2 separate regions of the Homo sapiens genome follow, and region 1 is linked to region 2. The links come from fine-mapping of genetic effects on plasma protein levels. A gene starts in region 2. The other region holds a variant in brackets. All regions are shown on one strand. Distances are from middle to middle.

What was found. A credible set is the group of variants that fine-mapping cannot tell apart. PIP is the chance, under the fine-mapping model, that this variant and not a neighbour inherited with it causes the effect. The UK Biobank Pharma Proteomics Project read protein levels with antibody pairs (Olink). The fine-mapping took linkage between variants from a reference panel, not from the people measured, so its PIPs are less certain.
Region 1: its variant is the best candidate, but not a certain one, in a credible set for the plasma level of the TTF2 protein (UK Biobank, PIP 0.74).

Annotation. Positions count from the first base shown.
Region 1 is chr1:117,096,226-117,100,622 of GRCh38, forward strand. TTF2 (transcription termination factor 2) reads left to right here. Exons shown (of 23, transcript NM_003594.4): 20 at 1-74; 21 at 1,126-1,208; 22 at 2,608-2,682. Among named protein-coding and RNA genes, the nearest start is that of MIR942, 3.8 kb to the left of the region's middle. The variant CT/C (reference allele first, on the strand shown) is at 1,963.
Region 2 is chr1:117,058,334-117,062,730 of GRCh38, forward strand. It overlaps TTF2 (transcription termination factor 2), which reads left to right and starts at 1,993. Exons shown (of 23, transcript NM_003594.4): 1 at 1,993-2,041; 2 at 2,122-2,224; 3 at 4,054-4,140. The coding sequence starts at 2,014. CD101-AS1 (CD101 antisense RNA 1) reads right to left here and starts at 1,157. Exons shown (of 4, transcript NR_110786.1): 1 at 1,040-1,157. RefSeq lists a silencer at 1,064-1,113 and an enhancer at 1,534-1,693.

The DNA of each region.
Region 1 (4,397 bases), 38 kb after region 2:
CCATCGATGGCTCTGTCAATCCCAAGCAGAGAATGGACTTGGTAGAGGCATTTAACCACTCCAGAGGCCCTCAGGTACAAGCTGGTCACATCAGAGCCGCATAATTAACTGTTCTGAGTTATACAAAGAGAATTCTTTTTGTTTGGTTGGTTTTTGTTTTTGTCTTTTTGAGACGGAGTTTTGCTCTTGTTGCCCAGGCTGGACTGCAATAGTGCTATCTTGGCTCACCGCAACCTCCGCCTCCCGGGTTCAAGCGATTCTCCTGCCTCAGCCTTTCAAGTAGCTGGGATTACAGGCTCCTGCCACCAAGCTTGGCTAATTTTTGTATTTTCAGTAGAGATGAGGTTTCACCATGTTGGCCAGGCTGGTCTTGAACTCCTGACCTCAGGTGATCCACCTGCCTTGGCCTCCCAAAGTGCTGGGGTTACAGGCGTAAGCCACCGTGCCCAGCCATATAAAGAGAATTCTGATATGGCAACTTAAAAATATTTACAGCCTTGATTCCTCCGAGTGTTTAGAATTTATTAGACATGTATTGGGATACTTTTAAAGAGCACAAATATTCTAAAAAGAATCAAATATGAGGACTAAAAGGAGATTAACAGCAGAGCTGGTTAGGTTGAGGGGAATCTTTGCAGAGGAGGCAAGCTTTGAAGGATAGGTGGGGTTTTGGTATGAGGAAATATGGAAGGAAATGAAAGAACACAGGCATCTAATTATAGATAATAAAGATTTGGAAAGCATTAGTAGAATGATAGGCAGGAGAATTATTGTAGCAATGGAGGGGTAGGGACTGATGAAATAAACATAATCTGGTTAATTGAAAGTTTATTGAGCTGACCATCCCCAGGGTTCTAAATTACAGTATTTATATATTTTGGCAAGCACTCAGTTAATTTTTTGAGGTTGACTCACACACACACAAAATGTGATGTGAGAATTTTCTCAAAAGTGAGACATGGGAGATAGCATTATAATGTTAAAAAAAAAAACAATTTATAACAGCAGAAGGAAATTTGATAGGAACACAGTGCTTATCTGTATTGATTGTGGACTTAAACCTGAGACCGAGATGTGTTACGAGACCAAGTCTGTTTAAAGTTAATGTTGTGTTTCCTTTTGAAGGTAATGCTAATCTCTCTCTTGGCCGGAGGTGTTGGTCTAAACCTGACTGGAGGAAATCACCTCTTTCTTTTGGACATGCACTGGTAATGATTCCGGATTTGTCCTGGGTTGTCACAGCACATCAAGGAGGCCAGTGGGCTACAGGGGCAGCAAGAACTGACTTCTTATGTTGATTGCTGTGTTCGTATTGCAGAGATGCCTTGCTTTGTATGTGTCTATAGATACAGATCTAAGCAGGGTATAGGGCTAGCTGACTCCCCTGAATTCCTGAGCTAGCAAGCCTTCAAATGACTACTCAAAATAGTTCATTCACGTTATTGTTAGTCTAACATCTGTTTCCATGGAAACGGGGAGCATAGCTTTTCCTCATGGCTAAGAGTTAACCTTGCTCAGTTTTACCTCTTCTCCAGAATACTGTATTCCAGACACACTTGTTGGGGTCCAAGGAAATTTCAACCTTTGAAAAGAGGGAGAAGCATTACTCCAAAAAGAAAAGGAATAGGGATTTTCTAATTATGTTAGAAATACACTTAATACCTCACCCTTGGATTCATTGTATGTAGTGTTAATACCAGGAGTACAACCACATCTTTCGTGGCTACAGAATGAATGAGTTAGTGTGTTGCTAACAGAAAATCTCATAATGAGTACCAGTTTCTGGTTTTCCAGTTATGCCAATCAAGGATTGCTGCTGGGGATTGTCATTGGTCCAATTCTCCAGACAGCCCAGATGGGTACAAATAGGTCAACCTGTTATCATCTTCCAGGAGAACGGGTTTAGTTCTTACTTGGGACTCCTCTGTACACGTGAGTGAGGAAAGCATACTAGGAATCATG[CT/C]TTTTTTTTTTTTTCAGAGATAGAGAAATGTTATCCAAGATTTTAAAGAGGTAAGATGAGAAACTAATTTGGAGTTACAATGGGAATCAATAAAGAAGGAAACAAATTAAGTCTCCTTAATCGAATCACAGAATATTCAAGTTGAAAAAGGCAGCTAGTCAAGATCATTAGCTGGCCCTTCAATTTCCAAGTAGCAATCTGAAGCCTAGAGGACTGAGGTTAAATAACTTGCCCAAGGACATCTAGCTACCTAGAGACCAGACCTGAGTTTTGGTTTCACCTCTGTTACTTAAGAGTTGTCAACTGATGATAGTGCTAAGAGCTATTATTAACAGTCTGACCCTAGTTTCTCACTAGAAACTAGGCAAGAAGGTATCTGGCACCAGCTTGTCTTAGGCCAGTATAGCTTAGGACAGGGATCGACAGATTTTTTTTCTTTGAGGCTTTTCAGGCCACATAGTTCTCTGTCACATGATGTGTGTGTTTTGTTTTGCTTTGCTTTCTTTTCTTAAATCCCTTTAAAACTGTAACAATAATTTTTAGCTACAAAAACAAGCTGTGGGCTGGATTTGGCCCATGGCCCATAGTTTGCCATTTCTGATCTAGTATGTCAGTTCCTTTGAGCTTTAGCTGTCTTCTAACAGGAATCCATCACTTGAAGATCAAGCTTGTGACCGAATTTACCGAGTAGGGCAGCAGAAAGATGTTGTCATACACAGGTAAGTAATGGTCCCCAGGACCCAGGACCCTTCTCAACTTGTACTTTGTGAAAGTCTTTCTTTCTTAGGTAGTGTTTTCATAGAATTTAAAGTATTTGGTGATGACTTTACTGATGATGCCCCTGAGGCATACCTTCAGGCAAACCACAGTCAGGAGAAAAACGAGCAATTTGGGGTAAGCTTGAAGTTGGTCACTGCAAAAGAAGAGCAAATTTGTGTATATGGTGAGGGCAGTCCATGAAAGGATGCTCCTATCTTTTATTTTTCTTTTTAACTTTTATTTTGACATAATTTCAGACATACAGAAAACGTACAAGAATAGTACCAAAAAGTTCCCATATATTATGGTGTGCATGTGGGTAGAAACATTTTTCTGGACCACTTGAGAACAAGTTGTAGACCTGATGCTCCTTTGTCCCTAAGTACTTAAGTGTACATTTCTTAAAATTAAGGGAATTCTCTTACGTAACCCCAATAAAATCATCAAAATCAGGTTATTAAAATTAATAAAACACTATTATCTGATCTACAGATCTTTTCAATCTCACTTGTCTCAGTGATGTCCTTCACAGCAAAAAAGAATCCCAGATCCTGGTAGCACGCAGTTTTCATAAGTTTGTCTCCTTTGATCTGGAACAGTACCCAGTCTTTGTGTTTTATGACATTGACATTTTGATGAGCATGAGCCAGTTATTTTGCAAAATGTCCTCTGTTTTGGACCCCCTTGTCTTTAAAAACAACAAAACCTGCCTTAATGCTGCCAATCCCCTCTCACAATGGCCCTCTTTTTTGCCTTCCTTTTCATGACCAGGTTTCCTGAAGAATTAGGAATCACTGCCTATCTTTACTTGATTACTTCCCATTCATTCCTCAGCCTTTACAAACTGGCTTTTACTCCTGTTGCTGCACTGAAATTGCTCTTGTTAAGGGGCACCAATGACTTCCAGACTTTGCTAAATATAGTGATTATGATAGTCTTCCTATGCTCTCTTCTCTGCTCATTCTGTACATTCCTTCCTTCACAAATTCTGTGCACTCCAGTAAGTCCAAAATTTGTATCTTTAGTTCCAAGGTCTCCTAAACTTCAGACCTATCGCAGTCCCTGCTAAATATCTGAATCCGAGTGTCCACATACTCATCTGTTATTCCTTCTTTTATTCATTGTTCTTTTGAGCATTCAGCCCATAAAACATACCTTTTGAGCACCCACTATGTAGCAAGTATAATTACATGTTTCAGGTACTCAAATGTTACAAATAGAAATTGATTTTCTCTTCCTATTATCTCAAATCTGCTATTCTTCTGTAGTCATTGTCTTTGTGAATAGTATCACTCTTTATCTAATTATCTAGCCAGAACTAGACTCCTACCTTTCTCGCTTTTCCACTTACCAAGTCCTTTAGTTATATTTTCTAAATGTTTCTGATAACCATTTCTTCCTTCCCATGCCCACTGCCAGGTCCCCCCTTCCCACTCTGCTGAATCCTGTTCTCTCCATCACCACCGAAGGGCTCTTCCTAGCTAATCCATCTGATTGTGTCATCCACTTCTCATATTCTTCAGTAGCTCTCACCTCCTATAGGATCAAATCAAAATGTCTTAGCATGACATGCACCACCACCCGTGATCTGGCCCTACCAGCCTCTTGAGCTTTTGCCATTGTGGACAACATGGTCAATGTGAACTTCCTCCAATACACCATGCTCTGAAACTCA
Region 2 (4,397 bases):
TTTGATCTAGTATATTTTTAATTTATGGAAGAAATATTCCTCCTGTCTGTGATTTGGCTGTGCACACTTTTGTGAGGTTGGACTGGAGATACCGACTTGGGTACTTGCAGAGGAGGAGCTTCTTCCTTAACGGGATATTTAAGAGGCCCCGATTTTGCCTTGTTTCGAAAATTATTCAAGAAATAATTAATTACCATGCCCCTCTTTCTGCAAATCCTGTATTCATGGTATACTACCTCCAATACAGCATCTATTAAACATGTACAAATACATCATTTGCAAGAATAACAATCTTGGAATAATGAAAATGCTTCTACCTATTTGTTGTTCCTGTCTTATCTCTAAGTTCATCTAAGTTTCGGAAGGGTAGTTATGTATAAAGGAACTTCACTTTGGAAATTCCATTTTTCTCTAGTCCTAGAGAGTTACTGCTAACTCCATTCATTTTGACATTTAAATACTATTTTATATTGTTATTTAAGTGTTCAACATGTACTAGTTCAGTCTCCTCAAAATACTGAGTAAGTTCCTTGTGCTTAGAATAGTTGTTTCAAACTTTGTGTGTGTGAATGAATGAATTTTACATTTCTCAAGCACCTAGTCCACAACGGGCACAAAAAAGCTATTTAGTAAGTACTGTTTAATTAATAAATGATACCTCAGGTTTGTCTCCCTTCCTCCGGATCCCCATAACATGTACATTTATCACATCGCCCAGATTTCCTAGACATTACAGATTTTCTGTTCTACGGCCCCCATAAGAACAGTGCAGGTGCCACACCATATGTCTGGGACATATGGTCCTCAATAGCTGCAATATGAAACTATTTCTATTGCAATAAATCTAATATCTATTCCTCTCTGTTTACTAATAGTTTTGATTACAACTTCAAATTTTAAAAATCGAGGATGAAGTTAAATAGAAGGGAACTGTCCCCTTTCTTCTATTTAACCTCGTCTTCGATTTTTAAAATTACAAAAGCATAATAGTAAAAAAAAGTTTGACAATACAAAATGATAAAGTAAAATTCGCCTTCACCAAAAGTCATCTATTTCCCCTTCTGTGGTTTCCACGTTGCGGCTGGTAACTCGGGGCTTCCACGCTGGGCGAGCCTAGAGAACATCCAGTACACACAGGAAGCAGCAGCGCGGGCCAAATGGCGCTGAGACCTGCGCACCTGTCCACGGACCGCCCACTCGCCAACTCTGACCTTGGGTGAGTCTCTCAAACTTGAGTCTCGGAATCTTCCACAAAATGCTACCCATCTCACCAGGTCGAGTGAGGAGGGTCGTGTTATGTGTAAGCACTTTGTGAAATCTAAAGCACGAGGCAAACGTAAAGCATTGTAGGGGGTCCTAGAGAAGTCTTTGTGCCTGCCTATCAGAGCCGTTTCAGTTCCCCGCAGCAGCTTCCAAGGACCTCCCACCATGCCCGCCGCTTCGGCTCCTGCACTGCAAATCTCGCGGCTCGGCCTGCAGCGGCGGCTTCCCCTGGCCTCCCACCCCAGCGACTGAGCGCGGAGCCCAGCGCGCACGAGCGCCAGCCTGGCTCAGAGACACCCACGAAGCCAGGGCCTTTCAGCGCCTGCTAACTGGCGCTACCCCTAGGGCCGCCTCTCGGTTTTAAACGTAAACAAGAGTTGCCCTTCCGTCTTCCAAGACCTGCAAATCGAAGCTTCTTTTCCTCCAGAAGCCCCGCCACCTTCTAAGCTTCTCCCCAGCCTCAGCCACGCCCCAGCCTGCAAAAGCCGGGTCCTTTACGCCCCCTGGCTCCGTATTTGATTTCGGCGCGCGCCATACCTGAGGGCAGCTGTGATTGGTTGGAGGTGAGCGAAGTTCCTATATGATTGGCTGATAGCGGCTAGGACGGGTGAAGGCCAAGGGCGGAGAATTATGGGAGGGATTAAGACTGCAAGAGCTGAGTGATGGTTGGTTCCTGAACAAAGAGGGCGGAGTAAAAGGCGGAAGCAGAATTGGGGGCGGGGCTTTGTGGAACTTGGGGGACCCAGCGAAATGGAAGAAGTTAGGTGTCCAGAGCACGGTAAGGGGCTAGGGTCTCAGCGTCCCGGGGCCTGTTGATTTAGCGTGGCGTAATCGTTGTTCACTTTCTTCTCTCTTCAGGGACTTTCTGCTTTCTTAAGACCGGCGTCCGCGATGGCCCGAATAAAGGAAAGAGCTTCTACGTGTGCCGGGCAGACACGTGCAGCTTCGTGCGGGCCACCGAGTAGGTCTGGAGCTGGGCCCCACTCCCTGTGGCTGCCCGGGGCCTCCCGAGAGGAGCTTCCCGCTCCCCGCTGTCGGGCGTCACAGGGCCGAGGAGTGGTGGGGCCCTAGTTTGCGGTGTCAGGACCCTTTAAGCAATTGGTGATCCCAGGGCAGCGTGGCGTGTTCGGAAGACGCCCAGCTAATTCTGGCTGTGTGACCCGAGGCTGGTTACCCCCCTCTCTGGGCCGATGGTTCCCCTACCTGTAAAATTGAGGATCCGGTGTTTTCCAGCTCTGGGTTTCTATTCACTTGACAGGCCTTAACCACTCCCTTCTCCTGCCCAGACAGTCCCTCCCCCTTTAAAGGAGTAAGGACACACAGCAGACATAGTGGAAAATAATTTGTCCCTGTTTTGCACTAGTTTTAGGCCCGACGGTTTTTTTTAAATGTTTGAGCTTAAAACACTCTAGTGATTAGTTGTTAGCCTTCTTATTTTTAAGTAGGATTCTCTGCATCTAAATGGTGAAATTGATAATTCAAAGAAATTAGCGCTGGAAGAAACAACGGAGGGCCTGGCGCGGTGTGTGACGCCTGTAATCCCAGCACTTTGGGAGGCGAAGGCGAGCGAATCGCTTGAGCCCAGGGGTTCGAAACCAGCCTGGGCAACATGGTGAAATCCCGTCTCTACGAAAAATTAAAAAAAATTGTCTAGGCATGGTATCACACGCCTGTAGTCCCAGCTACTCGTGAGGCTGAGGTGGGAGGAGAGAGTCAGAAATGTTAAGCATCTTCTCTAAAGTGAGGAAAGTTAATAGTTTGTCAAGTGTTAATGTTTTCACAGTACCAAGTGTCTACATTTTCTATGTGAATTTTAAAACTATCATCACATCATTAAACATCTCCTGCTCTCTATTCAGCAAAACTTGGTAGAGAAAAGTTATTTTTCTCCGTGTCAGATGTAGAGTACATAATGGATATCAGTATTAGAAAAGTGCCCTTTCAACATGTATACTAACTTCCCATGTTTCTGTTTCATGAGTTAGATGATTTACACTGAGCCTCTCAGATATAGTACCCAGGTCAAGTTTTGTGAGATAGAAGCATTTTTACCTTTGCAGGAATTCAACATTAATGGTGGCATAAGATTTGGTTTTACATTAAGAGAAACACTCTTATTTAGGATCCCATCTACACAAATGCTTTGCTATACAAACTAGCACAGTGGTATTTGAAGACAATTATTTGATAAACTTGATTTATTTGGACTATATCTGATAACCAATATACAGGCCAAAAAAAGTGCCACAGGTTTAGGAGAGTACTTTAAACCTTCACTCAAACCTGTTTACTCTCAAATGTTATATATATTTAAATTTTTTCATAATAAGTTGGAAGGGAGTGATTAAAAACTTACACAAAACAAGAAGCATATAGGGCGTATTGTTAGAGGTAGGCGTGTGAATAACACTAAGTGACAGCTCTCAGCTTGTTAGAGGGAAAGGATGAAGGGAAGAGCCTGGGGAAAATTCATACAGGGCCTCACAGCCAGCCCTAATTATGTCATTCGTAGGGGGATCCCAGTGTAGAGATTACACAGTGCAGTGTGGTTTTAAACTTTTGAGTCATCAAGAAACAGTTATGCTTTATTTGAGAAAGTGGGTAAAGATGAAAGCTAGGGACTTCTTCCCCAAAGGAATGCCCATAGCTGTGATAATGTGTGGGAATTACAAACCCAGTAGAGGTTATACATAGATTCTTGGTGTAAAAACCCATAGTTTTGATTTGACTTTAGGATATTGATCTCTGTTCCTGACCTAAAAATGTTTTCAACTTTTTTCTTTTCTCTAGCATTCCTGTTTCCCATTGCTTATTGCATGAGGACTTTGTGGTAGAGCTTCAGGGTTTGCTTCTGCCACAGGACAAGAAAGAATACAGGTAAGGGTCCAAAAGGAACATCTAAGTGTATTTGCTTTTTTTTTTTTTTCTCCCTGAAAGAGTTGTAGCCAGGTATGTATTAGGATTGTTCTTTAAAAGTCATTTTAAAAAACAAAATTTGTATATGTATTAAGTGTCTTTTGGCTGTCACTACCTAAATACCAAGCAGCTAGTTAATCTGAGAAGTCTGATTTCTAGTAATTTTCACGTAAATGGCTCCACAATCATCCCTCTCCAACTGTCAGGTAGCCTATAAT